3 separate regions of the Homo sapiens genome follow, and all the other regions are reported to be linked to region 3. Evidence: microRNA targets listed by miRTarBase, many of them from high-throughput screens and not tested one by one. Region 3 holds a microRNA gene; each other region holds the end of a gene's coding sequence.
The links. The annotated mature microRNA hsa-miR-6823-3p reads UGAGCCUCUCCUUCCCUCCAG and lies in region 3 at 4,850-4,870, shown strand. An mRNA with a match to its seed (bases 2 to 7 or 8) in the 3' UTR can be bound and repressed. Matches are read on the target gene's strand: a 7mer-m8 pairs with bases 2 to 8, a 7mer-A1 pairs with bases 2 to 7 and ends in A, and an 8mer does both.

Region 1 (7,810 bases), not on the chromosome of region 3:
TTAGTGATTGCCAAGGATTTGGGGGAGGAATAAATGGGGAGTAGACTGCTCCTGGGTATGGGCTTTTTTGGGGGGTGATGAAAATATTCTGGAATTAGACAGTGGTGATGGTTGCATAAGTGTGTGAGTACATTAGAAAGCACTGAATTGAACCCGTTAAAAGGGAAAACTTTATAGTATGTGAATTACTTCTCAACAAAGCAGTTATTTTAAAAATAAAATTTTCTGCAATATCTCCAAAATTTATATAACAAAAGAAGCAAGGTGAAGATAGTATGTATAGTACCATGTGTGTAAAACTAGATAGACAGATATAGATAGATCGTCTATAGATAAATATAGATAGGTTATATATATAGAGAGAGAGAGGGCAACCAGCTTTTCATTCTGTACCCTTTTATGTTTTTCATTGTTTGTACTATGTGCAGGTATTGTATCTATTATATATATATTTTTTTCTAGGATCATATAGCTAATGGTTTATCATTATAACTTTTCACATTCATCCTTTCTTTCCTTTTAGGAAACAACAATTAGTGACATCCTTGAATCCGAAGTAGTGAATGAAATATTGCCTTTATCAAACTCCAGGTTAGTAAAGTCAAGACAAATAAAGTCAAGTCTATCTGAGATGGACTGTCAGCCATGCCTGAGAGTCATGGCTGCCTAACTAGTCCTGGATTGCTGGCTTGAGAAGGCATAGCTTTCTGGGGTCATTTTCTCTACATGAATTATTTGAATCTTCTTCCAATTCCTCCCCTTGCCACTCCTTCAACTCTAAACCCCACAGAATCCTGACTTAAGGTAGGAAATAAAATATGAACATAGGTTTAAGGTAAATTTTATTTGGCTTTGTGTAACAGTTGCAAAAAATTGAAATTCTATCAATGCCTGTATCCCTGTAACCCCGAACTGCTACCAACAAACTCTATGTACATGATGTCCTCACATATGGCATTTCTTAGTTTTTCAGGAAAAGGTTTGGTAGAGTCATTTGCAAGTCTTCAAGAGACTGAAGAGATCAAGTCAAAAGAAGCAATGGCAAGTTCAAAGTCCCCTGAAAAGTCTCCTGAGAATCTTGTGTGTTCACAGAATTCTGAGGCTGGATACATAAATGTGGCTTCTCTGAAGGAGACACATGGTATACAAGAACAAGACCAAAAGTCAGAACTATAAAATCACTGGTGCCTAAAGCTATACTGAACAAAAGTGGTAATTTAAAGCCTGGACAAAAGGTGGACCATGACATTGAGAAGAGTTACCACAGATCCCAAATGGATATCACCCAAGAGTCTTCAAAACTGCTGATAAATTCATTAAAGCAGTTGTAAAAATGGATTTCTCAAGTTTGTTTGATATCCTCAGATGCCTTGTATTGACCAAAATATTGACTTTAGTTCAATGATTTATTTAGGTTTCTCTTCAGCAGAGCACATGTAGGGTTAATTCAACATTCTTTCCCATTATCATGGGTATCTTTTCTGATTTATTTTTTAACAGTAAAAACAATACAGTCACATTAAAGCAAATTTTGTTTTTAAAAAAACCCTCCTATGCTGGGCGTGGTGGCTCACGCCTATAATCCCAGCACTTTGGGAGGCTGAGGTGGGTGGATCACGAGGTCAGGAGATCGAGACCATCCTGGCTAACACGGTGAAACCCTGTCTCTACTAAAAATACAAAAAAATTAACCGAGTGTGGTGGCGGGTGCCTGTAGTCCCAGCTACTCAGAAGGCTGAGGCAGGAGAATGGCGTGAACCTGCGATAGCACCACTGCACTCCAGCCTGGGTGACAGAGTGAGACTCCGTCTCAAAAAAAGCAAAAAACAAAAACAAAAACCCTCCTATAATACCATAAGCTTTTTTTTTTTTTTTTGAGACGGAGTCTCTTACTCTGTCACCCAGGCTGAAGTGCAGTGGCATGATCTCCGCTCACTGCAACCTCTGCCTCCCAGGTTCAACCAATTCTCCTGCCTCAGCCTCCCAAGTAGCTGGGATTATAGGTGCCCGCCACCATGCCCAGCTAATTTTTGTATTTTTAGTAGAGACAAGGTTTCACCATGTTGGCCATGCTGGTCTTGAACTCCTGACCTCAGGTGATCCACCCACCTCAGCCTCCCAAAGTGCTGGGATTACACCAATACCACAGTCTTAACACAACTAATTTTATTTTACAGTTATTCCCTTTTGGTCCTAATTCAAGTACATATATTCTAAGTGGTTATTATAATATTGTATATTCATTTTCACAGTTTGATTTTTAATTTACTGTATATACCATGGAAACATTTTCAATCGCCATATGATATTCAATCATGTTGATGTTCTATAATTATTTTTATGGGAAAAGTTTTAAATGTTTAATGAAGAAGATTTAGAGCAATACATTATTTAAAAGTGGATAGGAGGTTGGGCGTGGTGGCTTACACCTGTGATCCCAGCACTTTGGGAGGCCGAGGTGGGCAGATCACCTGAGGTCAGGAGTTCGAGACCAGCTTGGCCAACTTAGGGAAACCCCGTCTCTAACAAAAATACAAAAACAATTAGCCAGGTGTGGTAGTGCGCGCGCCTGTAGTCCCAGCTACTGGGGAGGCTGAGGCAGGAGAATCACTTGAACCCGAGAGGCAGAGGTTGCAGTGAGCCGAGACTGCACCAGTGCACTCCAGCCTGGGTGACAGAGCAAGACTCCATCTCGAAAAAATAAATAAAATAAAATAAAATAAAAGTGGATAGGAAAATACCAAGAGCTTTTCCTGGGGGAGGGGGTATGAGAAGAGAGTTCACATAAACCCCATTACACAGAAACTACCCCTAAATATTTCCAAACAGGAGTACAAAGTAGGTGAACAGTCTCCAGCTCATCTTTAGTGTAGTGGGACTGCTTCTTCAGAAAAGATCAGCAACATTCACATCCATTTCATCTATCAGGGTGGAACAGTACTGCTCAGTATCTCTGAGGATGTGGATGTTCTATAAATTAAACGTTCTCTTGTTTGGCATTTAAGCTGTTTTTACTTTTTTTTTTTTTTTTTTTTTTTTGAGACAGGGTCTCACTTTGTAACCCAGGCTGGAGTGCAGTGGTTTGATTACTGCTCATGCAGCCTCAACCTCCCATGCTTAAGTGATCCTCTCTCCTCAGCCTCTCCCAAGTACAGGCATGTGCTACCATGCCTGGCTCATTTTTGTACTTTTTGTAAAGACGAGGTCTCACTCTCACTCTATTGTTCAAGCTGGTCTCAAATTTCTGGGCTCAAGTGATCCTCCCACCTAAGCCTCCTAGGTGATAGGATTATAGGATGAGCCTCTATGCCAGGCCTGGTTTTACTTTGTTACTATTTAAGATTATGCTGTGTTGAAGGTCTTTGTGCATGTAGTTCTTTTCTTCTTTTGAATTACTCCAGAAAACAAATTCGCAAGATTGGACTGAGTCAAAGGATATAAATGTTAATATTGCTCTAGGACATCACTTCCTTTGCTTTAAAAAAGGGTTCTGCCTGACCAGGTGCGGTGGCTCACGCCTATAATCCCAGCATTTTGGGAGGCCGAGGCAGGTGGATCACTTGAGGCCAGGAGTTCAAGACCAGCCAGGCCAACATGGCAAAGCCCTGTCTCTACTAAAAATACAAAAATTAGCCGGGTATGGTGGTGCACACCTGTAGTCCCTGCTATGCGGGAGGCTGAGGCTCGAGAATCACCTGAACCCAAGAGGTAGAAGTTTCAGTGAGCTGAGACCACTCCACTGTACTCCAGCCTGGGCAAAAAGTGAGACTCTGTCTCAAAAAATAATAATAATAAATACATAAATAATAAAATAAATAAAAAGTGTGTCAACATACTGTTTTCATAGTCAAGTTACTCAACCTCCTTGAGCCTCAATTTCTTGATTCCTAAAATGGGAACAATAATAGTTCTCTATCCCATAGGGTTGTGAGGACCAAATGAAATGAAGCATGTAAAGTATTTAGCACGTAGTAACTGCTTAATAAATGCTATCATCATTTATTTTCACTAGAGGTTTATCAATGTACTATTTTTTTCACAACCTCATCAACATTGGATATTATCAATTTTAAAGATTTATTCTAAAACAGTTGGTATAAAATTATACTGAAGCGTGACTGCTGCTGTTCCTTTTCCCCCTCCTCCCCTTTCTTCTTTTTCAGTTGGAGGAGACCAAGAGGAGAGGATCAGTAACCAGAAATAAAAATGACCCTTTACATTGAGACACACTGTATTTTTATATGTAATCCTTGCTTTCTCAGACAACAGAGCTAGAAAGATGATCATAGGAACTAGGAAATAATAACTATTTTATTAAATGCATGCTGTTATATTGAATGAGCCTTGCCCAAGGTCCCCTTCTTTCACTAAATTCATTGCATCTATTATTTATTGAATACCTACTATATGCTATTCAGTAGGCGACATTGCAGCTACAGCTGCGAATAGGACCAGGAGAGTCTCTACTTTCATGGAGTTTATATGCTATCAGGGAGGAAGATTATGTGTGTGTGGCAGGAAATGAGGTGTAGACACATACCATACGAAGATAATGTGGAAGTGGGGGTGGCATGAAGAAAACAAACCAGTGATCTGAATGACCAAGGGCTACTTTAGATTAGGTCTAATGTTGCCTCTCAGGAGGTAACATCTGGGGTGAGCCCTGAACTACAAGGAGCATTACTTCCCACACGCATACCCCAACCAACCCCCACAATCCCCCGCCAACCCACATTAAGTTCTGGAAGGAATATTTCAGACAGAAGTAACAGCTATTACAAAGCCCTAAAGAGAGGAGGGATCTCAGTGACCTGGAGGAACAGACAGGTCAGAGCACAGTAACTAAGGGCAAGTGGTACAAGATGAGGTCAGGTACGTGATAGCCAGATAAATGCACTGTAGGGCTTCGTATGCACGGAATTGGATTTTATTCTAAATATGGGAAGCCAGGAGTTATTTTTAAAATAAATAGGAAGCACAAGAGTTATTTTAAAAATAAAAAATAAAAAACTCTAGTTGCTTTATGGGAAATGAATTGGAAATGACAAAACTGGTAGCTTTTGTGGCAGAACAAACATTATCTATTGTCCTGACTTAGAGGAAGGGATATTTACTTAGCAAGCCTGTACGTGCCAAGCTGTTCTAAACGCTGAGGATGAACAAACCAGAGTTCCTGCCTTCACGGTGTTCACACTAGCGGGCAGAAGACAGACAGCACGTGTGGCGGTGCAGAGGGCTTGGCTGCAAGAGCCGATAAGGAGGACCCTGGCGACTGCCTAGTCCAAAAGTCCTAGCTAGAGCAAGATCAACTTGTACTGCCCTTAGTACAGCCACGTGAGTGGGGTGACCATTGACCTTAACCAAAAAGATGTCAAGGCTTTCCTCCTCCTCACTCCCGCGTCCCCAGTGCCAGGCAGAGTCTCTCAGCTAGACCCTAGCAGTCTCAGCACACACCGCACGGGGCGACAGCTTCCGGGGGCGGAGCCTGGTCTCGCTCCACGTCTACCGCGCCTGCTCCCCGGACGAAATCCGCGGACCGGGCTTTAGGTTCGCCGGAATCCCACGCTCCCGACTTCTGCTTCCGGGTCGGAGCCATGGCGGTGGCAAATTCAAGTCCTGTTAACCCCGTGGTGTTCTTTGATGTCAGTATTGGCGGTCAGGTGAGATCCAGGAGGCTGCCCACACCTGCGCCGAAGGGAAACTGCTCGGGGCTAGGCAGGCAGAACTCACCCAGAGAGAGCGGACTCGGGAAGCCAGCCAGAAAGTGAAATTGCACCCGAACCTACCGACCTGCCGGGCGGGGGGAAAGGAGGAGGAGGAGTCTCCCCAATCCTAGCGCCCCGCTTCTGGAGGAACTGGGCGGTTAGACTAGGGAGGCGGAGGTGGGAGATACCGAGCGGCAGGGTGGTGGGTCAGCCCATCATGCCCCCTGCTCCGTGAAGCCCTCATGGTCTTGGACTGGGCCTTCTGACACTCTCCCGCTGATTGCAGGAAGTTGGCCGCATGAAGATCGAGCTCTTTGCAGACGTTGTGCCTAAGACGGCCGAGAACTTTAGGTAAGGACGTGCTCCAGCTCCGCTGGATTAGCTGAGGCAGAAGTCGGGCTCCAGTCAGCCGCCTGAAATAGCCTGTCTACCTCTGTCCGTCCGCTCACTGCTCTTGAGACCTGATTCCTCCATGCATTGCTCTGTCTGGTTGCCGTTTGGATTGTTCCCGTGTTAATTTACGTTGTTAGTCTGTGTGACTGCGTGTCTGGACGTCTGGCTGGCCGATTGGTGGACTTGCTGGCTCCAGTGTTTATTCTTTCCCGTATTTAGAGGCGCTCACGACTGTGACATCATAGTGATTGAATCATTCATTTTTTGTCCCTTTCAGGCAGTTCTGCACCGGAGAATTCAGGTCAGTTTCAGATGTGTTTGACTTCTTTGCCTGCTCCAGAGGGGTGTTCTGGGGCTGCAGTGAGGGTATCGGTGAACCACCTGCTGGCCTTGAATGATTGCTGGTGACAGTGATAGAAGGTAATGCCCCAAGGGTCTGTCCCTAGTTTATTTGCCTTCTTTATGTCTGTCAACCATCTTTAGGAGAGTCCTTTTGGCTCCAGTGCATGGTAAACTGGAAAGGCCTTGTGCTACCTGCTGTCACTCCAAGTCTCTTTCTTTTCGGTTATAGGAAAGATGGGGTTCCAATAGGATACAAAGGAAGCACCTTCCACAGGTAAGGCTCTTGGCAAGCCATCCTGGAGTCTTTCAGAAATATTTCCTGGGGGATTAGGCTCTTTAGAGGAAAATAAAACCAGAGGGTAATTCTTACATTTCTTGAGAAGAAATGTTTTTGTGGACTCAACAACTGAAGATTTATTAAATGTTCTAACTCTACTTACACTCCCCCACTTCTTAGGTCTTTAAAACAGAAACTACTCATCTTTACAATATCTTGTCTTTTTCATGCACTTGTTTGTGCGAATGCAGATTTTTTAAAAAGTACACTTGTAATCCTAAAGTGCATATAATATATCCTGCTGGTTGATATTTATAACTAATTCCTAAAATGATCATATATGATTGTCCAAGGATAATCATATTTCCTGGGGAGTGGAGTATGTCAACACTTAGTCTCATTTCAATATAGAATCTTTCTCATGGCCTCACTGTGGTTAGTAACAATGTTAGCACATAATTATATCACAGCTTTAGAGCTTTGGGTCTCTAATCCCCAGTAAGACTCCTGTGAAGTGGTATGGGTGATCTGCATTCTACAGAGGAGGAAACTGAGGATAAGAAAGGTTAAGGACCCTCCCTAGGGGTAATAGCTAACAGTTGTTAAGCCCTTACATGTTTAGCAGTACATTTCACATAAATTCTCTGTAGTTCTTTCCCCCAAATTTACATCAAACCCTTGCTCTGCCTTTTGCTTTGGCAAGTAAGCTTTCAGCCCCTTCTTCTTATTACTGTTCAGGTACCAGATCATGCACTTGATCAACTCTAACATGCCCTAATTTATAACGAAAATCCTTTTTTATGGTTAATTATCCTTTCAGCTTAATCATTCAGGAAAAGAATAATCTTCAGGTTTTTTTTGTTTTGTTTTGTTTTTTTGAGACAGAGTCCCACTCTGTCGCCCAGGCTAAAGTGCAGTGGCATGATCTTGGCTCACTGCAACCTCCGCCTCCTGGGTTCAAGCAATTCTTCTGCCTCAGCCTCCCGAGTAGCCAGGACTACAGGCATGTGCCACCACGCTCGGCTAATTTTTGTATTTTTAGTAGAGACGGGGTTTTGCCATGTTGGCCAGGCTGGTCTCAAACTCCTGGCCT
Region 2 (7,810 bases), not on the chromosome of region 3:
CAGGGCCAGGGTAAGACAGACGAGGCAAGGCGCCTAGACGAGAAAGAGAGCTCTGAAGACAAAAGCAGCTCCCTGGACAGTGACGAGGACCTGGACACAGCCATCAAGGACTTGTTAAGGTCCAAGCGAAAGCTCAAGAAGAGGTGCAGGGAGCCCAGGGCTGCGTGCAGGAAGAAGGTCAGGTTCAGCACAGCCCAGACGCACTTCTTGGAGCAGCTGGGCGGGCTCCGGAGAGACTGGAAAGACAGGGGCCCGCCAGTGCTGAAGAGCTGCCTCTCCAAGTCCAAGAGAGACAGTGGCGAGGGTCCTGGGAAGAAACCCCCCAGTGTCTTTGGCAGCACGGCAGAGAGGATGAGGCAGGAGGGTGCCGCGAGCCAGGACGCGGCCCTGGCCTTCCGGGTGAGGAGACCCGCCTCCGCCTCTGCCTCCGAAGGGAATCCATTCCCCAGGGAGTCCCAGGGCCCAGCTCCCAGCCCCGGCTCCCTGTCTGATGACAGCAGTTCAGTGGACAGCAACGACAGCATCGAACTGGAGATTAGGAAGTTTTTGGCGGAAAAGGCCAAGGAGTCAGTGAGCAGTTCAGAAGTTCAGGCAGAGGGCCCCACCGCTCTTGGGACAGGGGGCCCAGCCAGGCCAGAGGTGCTGTGCAGGAAGGAGCCTGCCCCACCGCCTGGCGTGTGCACACGCAGCCAGAGGGCCAGGGGGGTCCCACATCTGGCCGAAGGGCTTCGAGGCACAGAGAGCGCAGGAGCACAGGGCACAGCTGGTCTGTTCAGCCAGGGCGGGAAGGGGCTCCCTGCTGCTCCTGCCCGAGGGGATCCGGTGCCGCCCAGGAGCACCAGCGGCGGTGTCTCCGCCAAGGGGCTCTCAGTGAGCAGGAGAAATGTTTACGTTCACAAAGACCAGAGCCCACGAGGGGCTGAGCCTGCTGCCAAAAGTGCTTTTGGTCAGCTGCCCAGCTGTGCCACAGCGGGCACCGAGGCAGGAGGCGCCAGAGGAACCTTTCACATGGGCTGCGGGAGCCCGAGCTTCCTGACCCCCAGCCCGGGAGCGGAGAGGGACGCTGGAGCCCAGGCCGACCGCACACCGCCCTGGAGCGACTTCGCCCACCAGAGTCGGCTGCCCAGCCCGTGGGTGCTGCGCTCCGAAGGCAGAGATGCAGTGTGGAGGGGGGGCGTCGGGAGCGAGAGAGACAAGGGGTCCGAGGGCCCCGCCCGGGGCCTGCCCAGCCTGCCCCTTGCGGGCTTCTCGCCGCTGCTGTCCACCCAGCTCTTCCACTTTGGAAAGGGTGTCTCCTGGGGGGGCAGGCAGGCTGGCCTCTTCAGCCCCCACCTGGGGCTGCCTCTGCAGGGCCCCTCCTTCTCGGCCTTCAGGGAGGCCCAGGCCGGACCCAGCCCTGTCTTTGGAAGCCCACACTTGCTGGCAAAGAAGGACGGCGGCCCCTGGCCAACCAGGAAGGCACAGGCAGGGCTGAGTTTGCATGACAGGAGGAGCTCGGGCTCGGAGGAAAGCATTTTAGACCTGAGGTATCGACGAAGGGTCAACAGGGATGACCAGGAGCAGGACGCCTTGGGCAGTGACGCCAGTGACTTCAGCGACACCTCCACGGAGGACAGTGGCGGCAGCTCAGTAGTGAAGGTCTAAGCCCTCGAGCTGTGGGTTCGCGTCCTGGGTTGCGTGCATTCGTGGAAAGCGGCGTAGCCGTGCGTGTGTGTGATGGTTCCGTGGCTGCAAGGAAGGGAAACAGTCTATTATACATAGCCCTGTATATATGTACACCAACATGAAACTTTTATTTAACAGACGTGTCCTGGTAAATATGATTTTTGTAGCTTTTTGTAAATTATTTAAAGTGATGTAAAAGATATTTTTGGAAAATACTGTTGTTCAATTTTGTAGGGTGTTCCTAACTGCAGTTTTCTGTGTTCTGCATACAAGTCTTAGCTTAGGAAACATTTGGTTCTTACCATCACAGCCAGGTTCACAGAGGCTCTGATGCTTTTTGGTTGATTGCTGGTGAGAATGGCCGGCGGTGGCTGCAGTGGTAGCCTGAGGAAGGCCAAGCTGCCCTCCCTGGGAATCACTCAGATGCCCCAAGATGTCCGTTGGGAAGCTCCCAGGACAGCACTTTTTATACAGAGGACACCGCCTCGGCCCCACGTCCTTAGAGGCCAGAGCACATCTGAAAACTGCAATCACAGCCGTCCGCTGGAAAAACGTTTCGAAGCACAGTGGCCAGCGAGCGAGCACGTGGCTACTCCCTGTTGCATGTCAAATCCACACAGATGTCAGCGGCAGCTGCTCGGCAGCCCAGCCCTGGGCCTGGGTGGGTTCATGTCCAATCTTGTTCGATCACTAGATGATTCTAACATCGAAATAAACCTCTTTTTATATGGCGTTACTGTTCTTTTTAAATCATGGTTCTTAAAGATAACACACGTGCACTTAAAATGTCCTTTTCTCTGGCCGGGCGCGGTGACTCACACCTGTAATCCCAGAACTTTGGGAGGCTGAGGCGGGCGGATCACCTGAGGTCAGGAGTTCGAGACCAGCCTGGCCAACATGGCAAAACCTCGTCTCTACTAAAACTACAAAAATTAGCCAGGCATGGTGGCGGATGCCTGTAATCCCAGCTACTCAGGAGACTGAGGAAGGAGAATCACTTGAACCCAAGAGGCGGAGGTGGCAGTGAGCTGAGATCGTGCCATTGCACTCCAGCCTGGGTGACAAGAGTGAAACTCCATCTCAAAAAACAAAACAAAACAAATTTCTTTTCTTGCACACACCAATAAGCACTGCTTTGAACTTTGGTCCCCAGACACCCAGGGCAGAGATGACGTGCAAAACCCAGTCCTGGGGATAAGCGTTCTCCATACCTGCCCTCCAGAAACAGGAGCCCCGTCAGAGGTGTGCCCGAACACCAACGTCAGCCCTTTGGGTGGCTTTCTGTGGGCGCCTCCCAGGACAGAATGCACAGGGCCCTCTCCTGCACTGTGGCGTGGTTAAAGGTGGCGGCCTCAGGTCCTTGGTGTTGGTGCCCTGTGATGCTGCCCTGGTATTCTGTGCCTTCTGCTCTGAGGCCACCGCAGTGTCCGTGGCTACTACAGAGACAGAAGCAGTGCTGGGCACTGATGGGCCGTGACATTTACATTGTAATTGTCCAGCAAACTTTGATGAGTCACTGGAGCTTCCCAGGTCAGCCTCGTGGCTTAGCTGCCATGCGGGGTTTCTTTGGAGCTGAATCTTGTTGGTATTCGAACATGCGAGTGGCTTGTCTACACACTGTGCACCCCTGGGTTTTAGCAAGAATTCACTCTTGTATCCAGATGCAGGCATGTGCCACCTGCCATCCACAGATGCAACGTCTGCTGGGTCAGAAGCCGTGATGAGGGTCCCTGTGGTTGCTGTTCCTGTCCAGCCCCGTCTTTTGTGTGTGATATCTTCGTTGTGGCATATTGCTTCACTTAAGTGCTTCCAGGAGAAACAGTTCCATGTAATCCATGCTCTTTTATTTATATTGCTTTTTCTTATTTTTTATTTTTTGAGACGGTGTCTCACTCTGTCGCCCAGGCTAGAGTGCAGTGGCGCAATCTTGGCTCATGCAACCTTCACTTCCCAGGTTCAAGCGATTCTTGTGCCTCAGCCTCCCAAGTAGCTGGGACTACAGGCATGAGTCACCTCACTCAGCTAATTTTTGGATTTTTAGTAGAGAGGGGTTTCACTGTGTTGTTCAGGCTGGTCTCAAACTCTTGACCTCAGGTGATCCGCCTGCCTCGGACCTCCCAAAGTGCTGGGATTACAGGCTTGCGCCACCGTGCCCGGCCTTATTTATATTTCTAAATAGTGCCTGTGGGGATGTTGGCTGGAAACCAACCCCCTTGTCCTGGGCCCACCAGGGGAGGAGCCACAGCCACAGTGCACGTAGCACTGAGCCTCTCCCACTCCTGCCCCCATGCCCACCCCAGGGTCGCTTGTCTCATCTCTTCCCCAAACCCCGGACCCTTTACACCTTCCCTGACGTTCACATGTCCTCTGCCAACACTCCACATAGCAGTGCAGGTCAGAGCTGCTGCTGCCCCAGAAAGAAGACCTCCTGAGGTTCAGGGACATGGCATCTGTAACACGGTCACCAGCTCTAGTTAGCGTGTTCTGCCCGTACATGTGTGTAGGGCATCCCCTATCCACATGCAGAGCAGTTGCCAATTGGCTTACAGTCACTGTGGGTTAATCACTCACTAAGAATGTTCCAGGAACCTGCATTTCTTTGTGGAACACTTTGGTCCATTTTCAGTTTTTGTAAAGAGGTGCCGTGTCGTCGCGGGGGTCACCCTGGTGGGGTGGACTCAAAACTGCACAAGATGTCCCCAGTTCAGAGCTCCTTACCGAGGCCCTTGGGGATCAGGCTTTGCTGTGACAAACAGTGGCTTGCTTAAATACCGACCAAATGGCCCTCCTGATGGGGTTAAAACAGGCGATCCATGCCAGTCTTCCCTGGAGCACGGGGGGGCTTCCTCCCACCTTTGTTCTGCCGATCACAGTTGCCCTTGGAGCTCCTCTTGTCCTGCTTTCAGGAGTCACTGGTGCTTTAAGACTCAGCTGGAGATGAGTCGGTTGGTGCCTTCTTTCTCTTCACAAACTGGAATTCCCTGGAATTGCCCATGGGCCATGTGACCTGAAAGTGGTGCTTCTTCACCCCCTGCACTGTCCTGTTTGTTTTAGAGAAGAGGCCAAGATCCAAGGTTCGTCCACACCTGCCAGCGGGTTTTCCTGTATGGGAGGGGGCTGCAGTCAGGGCAGCCAGGAGCTGCACAGGAGGGATGCCCGCCCCTGTGTTGGCAGTCTGTCTCCCAGCACCTCCGCAGATCCGGGTGTGACGACGCGGCTGCATCCCATGAATACGGGCCCGGCGCCGCTGTGGGAGTAAGTAGATGTGTGCCCGCCCTGTAGGAGTCTCCGGCGGACAGTGTGTCAGTAAGTCAAGCTCTTTGCAAGTCTGTAATTATTAAGACCTAGAGGTAAGTCATGTCCCAAGAGCCCCTCTCTTCCCAGGGAGTAGGGCCAGGGTCCATTTCATCCAATACAAATAATCGGGAGAGGCCAGGTTTTAAGGTTTCTCGTCCTCTGGGATGAGTCAGCCTGATGTCGGGGAACGGGGATGGGAAAAGGAAAAAGCTCTGGCGGGTCATGTCTGATATTCTCCACCCACCTCCCTATGTAGGGGGAGAAGCTTCCTTTAAGGAAGAGTCCCCCTTAATTTATCTGTCGCTCAGAATCTGAAGGCTCAGACAGCAGATTTTCCCAGCTTGAGATATATTTGCTTTGGAAAATCAAGCAGTACATGTAATTATTAGCACCTGTCTGCTCATATAAACATGTAAAAGGCATTGCCCCCTGGATCCCCCCTCCCTCAAAACGAATGAAAGGACCTGTTTAAAGGGGCGTAGGGAACAGCACAAAGTCCACATTCCATATCCGCAAATCACAACCAGGTTTATTCCCAGGCGTGGCTGTTGGGGAGGGTGGGGGACAGATCACATTATTTGCAAAATCTTTGAGGCTTCTGGTATTTTGTGTACTATATGTAAGAGATTTTTTTTTTCAATGTCAAGATATTTTACTACATAATAGAAACCATTCTAATATTGACTGTAATGAAAAGATAAAGGTTACTGATGAAAAATACAGAAATATAAATGAAAATGTACGTTTAAGAAGTGGCTGGTTTTAAACCAACCCAGCAGTAAAATTCAGTGATTAGTAAAGCGACATGAATTTTTTTTTTTTTTTTTTTTTTTTTTTTGGAGAAGGGGTCTCACTCTGTTGCCCAAGCTGGAGTGCAGTGGTGTCTTGGCTCGCTGCAGCTTCCACCTCCCGGGTTCAAGCAATCCTCCTGCTTCAACCTCCCGAGTAGCTGGGATTACAGGTGTGCACCACCATTCCTGGCTAATTTTTGTATTTTTAGTAGACACAGGGTTTCGCCATGTTGGCCAGACTGGTCTCAAACTTCTGGCCTCAGGTGATCCGCCCACATCAGCCTCCAAAAGTGCTGGGATTACAGGCATGAGCCATTGTGCCCAGCCTTAGCTTGTAATTTCTGAGTGGAATAAAAAGGCTAAACAAAGCAAAGACTGCTCTGTGGAGTGAAGAGAGAGGGTTTCAGAAATGGCTGTGTCCTTTTTTTTTTTTTTTTTTTTTCCAAATATCTCTGCAAACTGATGTTACACTGTGTTTCCGTCACCTTTCCTGTAATTCTGAGATTTTGAAAGAACACAGTATAGATGGGTGCCATTTTCTTTTCATTTTGCAACCCTCCGTTCTGTACGCTTTAATCCCAAACAGAAAACACACCCGTTGAGCGTTCCGTTAGATCAGTGGACTTGATTTTTCTCAGCATGTGAAGATTTCAGTTTGGAAATCTGTTCCAAAGAGGAAGGTCTCCAGATTTGTGATCCCTGGAGCTCTGTATGACTCACAAATGCGTAGTAGGTTAGGACTGAATCTGCGGCTCTAGTGCCGATGGCCTCCCGCCTCCAGGATGTCCCCAAGGCGGGCTCCAGCGAGGCCGGCTCGCAGCCTTCCATGCGGCTCTGTTTCCCATCTGAGAGGGAGGCCCCAGGTGTGAAGATCGGGCAAGGTGACAATGCCAAAGCCCTTAGAACACTGCGAGATGCCAAGAAACGGAGCGGCGGGCACACGCCCGGGCCTGGGCATGGGAGACAGGCAGGCTCACAATTCAGAGGTATTGGGGTTTTTCATCTCTCCAGATGCTTACTCTATTTAGAATAAATGAGTGGAGTCTAACTTTCCATCAGCTCATTAGCAGCTGTACAGAAGTAACATTTTATTAGACACGACCAACTAAATCACTCGGCACCCAACTGAGATGCCGGAATTGAGCCCGTGAAGCCCGTAGGAGGGAGGCACCTGTTGCTGTTGGTTGATACTCCCAGCCTGGGCCCCGACAGCGCCTCAGCTAGAATTGGGGGTGTTATCCGAGTGAAGTGGTTTCATCAGGTGTGACTTTGCCTGCAGGCGTGACTTTGCCTGGATGAAGCCATCTTGCTACAGCAGTGCAGGTGTTCAACAGTTCTAGGCTGGCGGGGAAACAAACGCAGTCATTTGGACTGATGGCTTTATCTTACCCTGGTGCTTTTCAAAATCATCTGTGGAGGAAGCAATGCATTCTTTTTTTTTTTTTTTTTTTTTTTTTTTTTGAGACAGAATCTTGCTCTGTCGCCTGAGCTGGAGTGCAGTGGCGTGATCTCGGCTCACTGCAATCTCCGCCTCCCAGGTTCAAGCATTTCTCCTGCCTCTGCCTCCCGAGTAGCTGGAATTACAGGCACACCCCACAACACCCCTGGCTAATTTTTGTATTTTTAGTAGAGACAGGGTTTCACCATGTTGGTCAGGATGGTCTGGAGCACCTGACCTCAAGTGATCTGCCCACCTCAGCCTCCCAAAGTGCTGGGATTACAAGGTGTGAGCCACCCACCATGCCCGGCCGGGAATGCATTCTTTTCAGTGTGTTGAGAAACCTGATTGATAAGGCATTTTTTTTTATTTATTTCAATAGAAGCTAAACACAGAGGGGTTACTGGTATTTCTGGTATTTTTAAGGAATAACTGCAAAAACATTTTCAGTTTGATGCCTGGAGTCTCTGCTGGTTTTTTAGCTCAGAAGAAAGATATTACATAGATCCTGGCTTCAGGGCCAATTTTGTATACTTTTTAATTAAATATATTGATTTTCTCTGGAAAGCATTTCCATCCCAAATTGGACATTAAGACTGTTGCCAAAATGTTTACTTTT
Region 3 (7,810 bases):
ATCTGCCCCCCTTGGCCTCCCAAAGTGTTGGGATTACAGGCATGAGCTGCCATGCCTAGCCAAGTCTGTGAGCCTTTAAGGAGTAGGTCCTCAATAAGCGGAGGCAGGGTATTCTGTCATCACTACCATTCTTTCTTTGCTTCTCACTACGTCTGAGTCAGGGATTGATGCATCAGCTCCAAGCCAACCCCCGTTACAGGTGAGAGGAAGCTGAGGCCCAATGGGAAGGTCTCATAGCTCCTGAGGCAGGGCTTGTGTTTCTCCAGGCTCTAAGTGTGGAACTGAAATGTGGCTCTGGCCTGAGCTGAGGGGCTCGTGCCATCACGGTGTCTCAGGGTGTTGGGGTAGGCTGGGTTCTAGGTCCGCACTTTTTCCTGGAGGAGGAGGTAGCACCTGAGAGGCCAAAGATGAGACCTGCAGGTTGTTTGGGGATTTGGGCCTCAGGGTTCACAGCAGGGAGTGGGTAAGCAGTGAATGAACATGGAACCCGCCCATGCAGCACCTCCAGCTCCCAGTGCCTGCATTTGGGCAACACTTTACCCTTTGCATAGTAGACTTGTAGGTTGAGTGACTGCAAGGACAGTCTGGACCCGGAGGGTGTGGGTGGGGATGGAAGCGGATTTGGTCCCAGGGCTTTGTGGGGAGGAAGAAGCAGGACCCACTGCTGGTCTGTGCTTTGTACTGGGTTTTCTCTGGAGTCTAGTCCCCAGCTCCTCAGGGCACTAGGGGCTGGTGGACTGAGGGATGTACTGCACCTCCTCCACTCCCACAGGCACGCCCCCGCTTGATAAAATTTAAAGCCACACCTGAGGGCTTGGGAGGCTTTTACCTTTCCCATCATTGGCCTCCGAGCTCAGACCTGGAGGAACTCTGAGGGCAGGTGGGGCAAGAGCTGACTCAAGAAGGACTGCAGAAAGGACGGTGTTTGATGGCTTTTCTCAGCTGAAAGGTGGCAAGACTCTTCCTGGGTAAGGACATGACTGGTGTGTGCACAGGGCAACAGGAGAGATGACTTTCAGTCCCCTCTGAAAAGGGCCTCCATGGCACGTTACTTTATTTTAAAGAGCTCTTCCTTCCCTAGCCTGGCCTAAGGAGGTGAGAGCAGTTGCAGTTCAGGAGTCAATTCTGGCACCCCCTCCAGGGACTTGTGGCTGCTCCTTGGGTAGAAGTAATGGAACATAGACACTGCCCATTGCCAGGCACGTCTCAGGCCCCTTGGGCCCCTTCGCTCCTAGAGCTCATGGGGCCTGCAGCGAATTTACAGGAAAGGAACCCATGAGGGAAGTTGGGCTGACATGTCTTCACATTTCCTTCCGCACATGCTCAATGTTATAAACAGTGTGTTCTTTTTTTTTTTTGGAGACAGTCTTGCTTTGTCCCCCAGGCTGGAGTGCAGTGGCACAATCTTGGCTCACTGCAACCTCTGCCTCCTGTGTTAAAGCAATTCTCCTGTCTCAGCTTCCCGAGTAGCTGGGATTACAGGTGTGCACCACCACACCCGGCTAATTTTTGTATTTTTAGTAGAGACAGGGTTTCACCATGTTGGCCAAGCTGGTCTCGAACTCCTGACCTCAGGTGATCTGCCTGCCTCGGCCTCCCAAAGTGCTGGGATTACAGGCATGTGCCATCACGCCCAGCTATAAACAGTGTATTCTACCATCCTGTTTGCTCAGTGTCAGGGTCCTGTGGGCTCAGAGCCACAGGTGCAGCCGTGCACCCAGCCCGCTTAGTCCACGTGCTCTGTTTTGAGAGCTGCAATGTGTTCCCTCCTTGTTGTGCCTCAGTTGGCAATTTCTTATGGCTGGAATTTCCCAGTGTTTTGCTATGGTAAGCAGAGCTGTTGTGATACACTTGAACTTTGGTTTTCTTTTGGGTCATTTCCTTGGGAGCTTATCTTGGGGAGCAGAGGAGATAGGTAATTTATTGCCTTGTTTTGCACCCAGGCCTGATTTGCTGCCCTGCCTGCCCACCTTGTGCTGCGCATGTGGGTGGAAGGCGGGAAGGGAAATGCCACCAAATGCCATGGGAGGAGGCTGGAGCTGTCTCTGGGAAAATAGGAGATGTGGAGAGGGGGTGCAGATCCCCAGTCCTGAGGTTTTGGGAGTCCCTGAAGGAGCAGTTGGGGGGTGGCCCCATCAGCGGGAGCAGGGTAGATGCAGGATTTCCTCCTGCTTAGCAGCTGTCGCACTGCCCTTGGTTGCTTGAGAGCCCGGCCACCTGGCCGGGAACTATGCAAACAATGCACAATGCGGGCCTCAGCTGTCCACCGGCCCTGAGGAGGCAAGGCCTTGCCTAACTTGTTTTCCTCTCACCTTAGCTAATACTGAGAGTTCTCTGCAAGTTTCTCCACTCTCACTCAGTCAGCCTGTTTCATGGGGTCTCCTCCTTCCCGCCCCTGAGGCTCACCATTTGGGTCACCTTTAAACAAGGGGAATGCACAGGAGTGATGGAGCCCCCACTGGCAAGCAAGGCCCTTTGTTTCTCTGCAGGGCCTGCCTGGGGCCAGGCCACCGCCTCCATGCCCTGAGTCCCAAGGGCAGTCGGTGCCGAGGTACACCTATGGCTTTAGCTCAGTATCCGCCAGGGTAGGACAGAGGGCACAGCTTCCCAGAAGTGCCCAGGCTCTTGGATAGCACTAGGCTTCTCTGAGGGATGACTGCCCCATTTTACAGCTGGGGACACCGAGGCTCAGAGTTCCCAATGAGTGTCAGACTCAAGATGGCAACCCAGGCCTGACTCCTGATCCCCTGCGGAAGTGCTTCTGGGGCCTCTGTGCTCTGAGGGAAACAACTTGTTGGTGGGGACAGTCTGTCTAGGCAACCAGGTGAAGGCACTTGCAGAACCAAGAAGAGGGGCAGTGACAGGTCCCCACATCTGTTCATCTGCCTGTCTGCTATGGTTTTACCTGACCCAGGTCCTAAGGATGAGGAAAAGGAAGCTTCCTGAGGCTTCTGACGTGAGACCGCGTTTGATGGCACTGGAAACTGAGCTGAGGGCTGGGCTCACGCCTGTAATCCCAGCACTTTGGGAGGACGAGGCAGGCAGATCACCTGAGGTCAGGAATTCGAGACCAGCCTGACTAACATAATGAAATCCTGTCTCTACTGAAAATACAAAAATTAGCCAGGTGTGGTGGCATGTGCTTGTAATCCCAGCTACTTGAGAGGCTGAGGCACGAGAATTGCTTGAGCCCGGGAGGCAGAGGTTGCAGTGAGCTGGGTACCAGTGTCCTCCAGCACTCCAGCCTGGGCAAGGGCGACAGAGCGAGACTCCCTCTCAAAAAAAAAAAAAAAAAAAAAAAAAAAAAAAAAGAAGGCTGGAGGTGATGGCTCACACCTGTAATCCCAGCACTTTGGGAGGCCCAGGCAGTCGGATCACCTGAGGTCAGGAGTTTTGAGACCAGCCTGACCAACATGCCGAAACCCCGTCTCTACTGAAAATACAAAAATTAGCCAGGTGTGGTGGCAGGTGTCTGTAATCCTAGATACTTGGGAGGCTGAGGCAGGAGAATCGCTTGAACCTGGGAGGCAGAGGTTGCAGTGAGCCAAGATCGCACCACTGCCCTCCAGCCTGGGCAACAGAGTGAGACTCCGTCTCAAAAAAAAAAAAAAAAAAAGAAAAGTGAGCTAGGTCCCATAAGATGAAGCTGGCAGTTCTGCTGCCTTGGTATCTGTTCTAGCCAGCTGGGAATATAGGGGGCTGTATTCAGATCCTTCCGTGCCTCTAGCCTGGCATCTTCTCTGGCTGGCACACTGACCTGTGGCACATGGATGGTGGTGGGTGGGCTATCAGAGGGACTGTCCTTGTGGGCATCAGTCTGGGTCTCTGGTCTCAACCCCTTGTGGTCCTTACCCTGAGAGACTTCTAGATGCCTCCCTCCCTGATCCTGCCCACAGTTCCTGAGCACCAGCGCTGTGCCAGGCCCCAGGGCCCTAAAGGGCTCAGATACCACAGGGCTTCTTCTGCTGTAAGTGATCAGTCTAGAGAGAAGAGTGTCATTAGTGAGGTGACCAGGATTGAGGGTGAGGGGTGTTCCCGGTGGCCATGGAGATGCCTTGGGGAAAGGACTCATTGAGGAAGTGACTTTTTAGCTGGGCTTTGTATGATGAAAAGAAGTTCACCACAGGGAGGGCATGCAGTGGGGCTATGTGTTCTGGGAGCACTGAGTGATGGATGGGGTGGGAGAGATGTAAAAAGGTTAGGGTATGGATTCCTGGATGACAGAGGCAGGGTGTTGATTACCCTGCTGGGTTTTGGTCCTGTCCTTCATGCGGTGGGGACCCCCCTAGCCATGTTTAGCCAGTGGCAAGTTCGGTTGACTTTATGCCTGGTGGTGCACATCAGGATGAAAAGGGCTGGAGAGATCCCACTGTGTCTGCCAGAGCCCAGGCGGGCCTGGGGAAGGGGGACATGCCAACGGTGGCTTGAAACCAGCATCTGGGGCCACTCCAGGAGCTGTGTGGGGATGCTAGGAAGCCAAGAAGATACGTCTGATGCCAGTCCCATGCCCTGAGGCTGAGAGACCACAGGCTGAGAGGGAGGGGTGCGCTGGGAGGGTCCCAGCCCTCATCTGACACTGTGCTGCTTGCCTTTTAGTGTGCATGACCAACTGCCCAACTCTCATTGTCATGGTGGGCCTGCCCGCCAGGGGCAAGACCTACATCTCCAAGAAGCTGACTCGATACCTGAACTGGATTGGTGTGCCCACTCGGGGTGAGGCTTGGCCCCAGCTGTCTAAGGGGAGCTTTGTGGGGCATGACGAAGAGAATAGAGAAGGCCTATTCTCTATTATTTGGCCTGGGGTTGGGTCAAGGTCAGGGTTGGTAGGGGTTGCTGTTGCTGTGAAAGCTGAGCCTCTCCTTCCCTCCAGAGTTCAATGTTGGCCAGTATCGCCGGGACGTGGTCAAGACCTACAAATCTTTTGAATTTTTTCTCCCCGACAATGAAGAGGGCCTGAAAATCAGGAAGTAAGTATATGTGTTGGGTGTGGGGGGAGAGGTTGCTGGGGGACCCAGTGTGGAGAAAGCTAACACATTACTGACCATTTACTGAGAAGCCCCTGGAGTGGAGCTGCTGGTGAATGACTGAGCTACTCCTGAGCCCTGGCCTTGCCCAGCCCTGATGGCTGTGTGACAGGGCTGTGTGACAAGGCTGGTCTCTGGATCTCTCAGGATGTGGTGGGGGTGGGAGGTGATGGGTTTGGGGATGAGAGGAGAGGGTGTGTTGTGTGGCCTCCTGGTGGCTGGGCCATTCCTGCCCTGGGGTTAAGGAACCCTTGGGAAGGACAGAGCTTCAGGGAGGTAAGAGGGGCTCAGCCCATGCAGGTCGTTGGAGCTGCTGCCTGGAGGTCACGCTCGCTCACCCCAGCGCCCCGTGGGGATGGCTGCTGCTGGGGAAGGGAACCTGAGTGAGTGCAGGCATACAGGCCTTAGGGATGGAGCTGGGGGTGGGGGGCTTCCTCCCTTGCCCCAGGATAAGCTCTCTCCTGTGTATTTGGAGCATGTTCTTGGTGTGTGATTGCTGGTGCGATTGGCTTTGCATTGACATCTCCTAGATGCTGCTGGGTGAGTCGTTCACACTTCTGCTGTTACTCTGGAGATAGAAATATGTATATGCTACCGCCCCACCCTCAACAACTTTCAGACTTGAACTGAGTCCTTTCTTCAAGGAACTGAGCACCAGCTGGTGGTCTGAGCAGCCATGCTGTGCTTTTCTCAGGAGGTGTTAGCTGTGGTCTTGAGAAGCCCCTTATCAACCTAGGGTGGCAGAGACTTGCTCTTGGCCCAGCCATCAGGATAGGGCAGTGAGCAGAGGTTGACCCAGCTCTAGTGACTTCCCCAAATCAAGCCCAGTGGCTACCAGGCTGCCACTGGGGTCCACACTAGGCTACCCGTTCCTTCTCTGGCCACCAGGGGGCAGGAACTCCCTGCTGTGGGGCTTGGACCTTCAGACTGGAGACTGCCTTTGTTCTTGCATCGGTGTGGCTGGGCCAGGCTGTGGCACCAAGAAGGGAAGGGGAGCCTGATATTCAGGTTTCTATGGCCAAATTGTGGGTAAAAATCAAGGCTGGACCCTCTGGTTATATTGAGCCAGATAAAAAGTAGAGGACTAATGTCTGAACCTACCGTGTGCTGGGTTCTTGATGCCCATTGTCACCCCCTACTTTTACAGATGAGGAAACTGAGGCTCAGACAGGCCAGGAGTCTCGCACAAAATAGCAAGTTTACATCAGCGCCCAGACTTGAATCTAAGCCCATCCACCGCTAAAAAGTGTCCATCATTCCAATATTCCTCAATAGGTAGGTCAAGGAACATCAAATGCAAATTTTATTTATTTATTTTAAAAATTATTATTATTTGTGTGTGTGTGTGATGGAGTCTCACTCTGTCGCCCAGGCTGGAATGTAGTAGTGCAATCTCAGCTGACTGCAACCTCCGCCTCCCAGGTTCAAGCAATTCTTCTGCCTCAGCCAACAACCCCAAGCTGTGGACGCTGATAGCCTACTGTCTGATCTTCCCAGCAGCTTCTGTGGTGGGCGGTGCCTCACTTTTCCAGATGCTGGGACCAAGGCCAGAAAGTGATGGGGGTGCCTTGGGTCACTCAGGGTTTGAATTTGAAGTCCGTCCTGCCTGAATCCATAGTGTTTGTGGGGAGAGTCTGCCAGCTGTTCCACTCTGGCTGTCCCCCTAAGGTAGGGATATTTGGGATTAATTCAAATGAAGAGACCTAGACTCAGAGAGGTTGGGAAGCTAGTCCAAGGTCACCCTGCAACAGAAGCTGGGGACAGGCTCATTGCTGCCTTTCTGCAGGCATACCCTCTGGCTGCCCTAGAAACCCTCTCTGCTGTATCCGAATCCTGGCTCTGGCTGGGCCACAGGGCCATCTCCTATTAATCAGCCCAAAATTTCCCAATTAGCAAAATAAAAGGACCAGAGTTTTTAAAATGGAAAACCTGGGAAGAGACAGCTGCATTTCCCAGAGGCCCAGTTACTCACACAGTGTTGAGGTCCATCTCTGACACTGGACACAGCAGAAGATCTAGAAAAGTGCGTGCAAGGCCGGGTGCAGTGATTCACGCCTGTAATCCCAGCACTTTGGGAGGCCGAGGTGGGTGGATCACTTGAGGCCAGGAGTTTGAGACCAGCCTGGCCAACATGGCAAAACCCCATCTCTACTAAAATTACAAAAATTAGCCACATGTGGTGGGGCGCCTGTCATCCCAGCTACATCAGGAGGCTGAGGCATGAGAATTGCTTGAATCTGGGAGGTGGAGGTTGCAATGAGCCAAGATTGCGTCTCTGTGCTCCAGCCTGGGTGACAGAGTAAGACTCTGTCTCAAAAACAAAGTGTATGCAAGGGCATAAGTACACATATTCTAAACAGGCACACTCATACTCCTGCACACAGTCCTATACCACACACAAGCCCCCTATGCACACACACACGTGGGCACATGCATGCATGTGCATACCTCATAGGCACACATCCGGACATGCGTATACCATATGCACAGGGTACATACACATGCACACCCCCTGTGTACACAGTCACGTTATACATAAGGGTATATGTACATGTGTGGGCACCTACACATATAAATACTTGGGCTCACTTAAGCCACACGTAATTCAAGGGCCATTACACACACGAAGGCGCACATGTTCTCACCCTGTATATACACACACACCTGAGCACGCTCATACATGGTGTGTAGGGGGTCCCCAAGACTGCCCTCAGGTTCAGTGATTTGCTAGGGTGACTCCCAGGACTTGGCATATAGCTGGACTCATGGCTAAGACTTAGTACGGC

Region 1: the mRNA of CCDC30 is a reported target of hsa-miR-6823-3p. Seed matches in the 3' UTR shown: 7mer-m8 at 3,680-3,686.
Region 2: miRTarBase lists PPP1R26 as a target of hsa-miR-6823-3p. Seed matches in the 3' UTR shown: 7mer-m8 at 1,987-1,993.

Annotation. Positions count from the first base shown.
Region 1 is chr1:42,652,853-42,660,662 of GRCh38, forward strand. CCDC30 (coiled-coil domain containing 30) reads left to right here. Exons shown (of 21, transcript NM_001395517.1): 20 at 524-591; 21 at 966-4,338. The coding sequence ends at 1,176. It overlaps PPIH (peptidylprolyl isomerase H), which reads left to right and starts at 5,571. Exons shown (of 10, transcript NM_006347.4): 1 at 5,571-5,660; 2 at 5,992-6,056; 3 at 6,376-6,399; 4 at 6,670-6,714. The coding sequence starts at 5,595. The region is part of intron 1 of LOC124904162 (a long non-coding RNA gene); the gene reads right to left.
Region 2 is chr9:135,486,497-135,494,306 of GRCh38, forward strand. PPP1R26 (protein phosphatase 1 regulatory subunit 26) reads left to right here. Exons shown (of 4, transcript NM_014811.5): 4 at 1-2,396. The coding sequence ends at 1,644. Among named protein-coding and RNA genes, the nearest start is that of PIERCE1, 9.5 kb to the right of the region's middle. RefSeq lists enhancers at 2,491-3,202, 3,914-4,624, 4,625-5,335.
Region 3 is chr3:48,547,021-48,554,830 of GRCh38, reverse strand. It overlaps MIR6823 (microRNA 6823), which reads left to right and starts at 4,810; the gene lies at 4,810-4,870. PFKFB4 (6-phosphofructo-2-kinase/fructose-2,6-biphosphatase 4) reads left to right here. Exons shown (of 14, transcript NM_004567.4): 2 at 4,597-4,713; 3 at 4,871-4,967. RefSeq lists enhancers at 1,748-2,409, 2,410-3,073, 3,074-3,735, 3,736-4,399.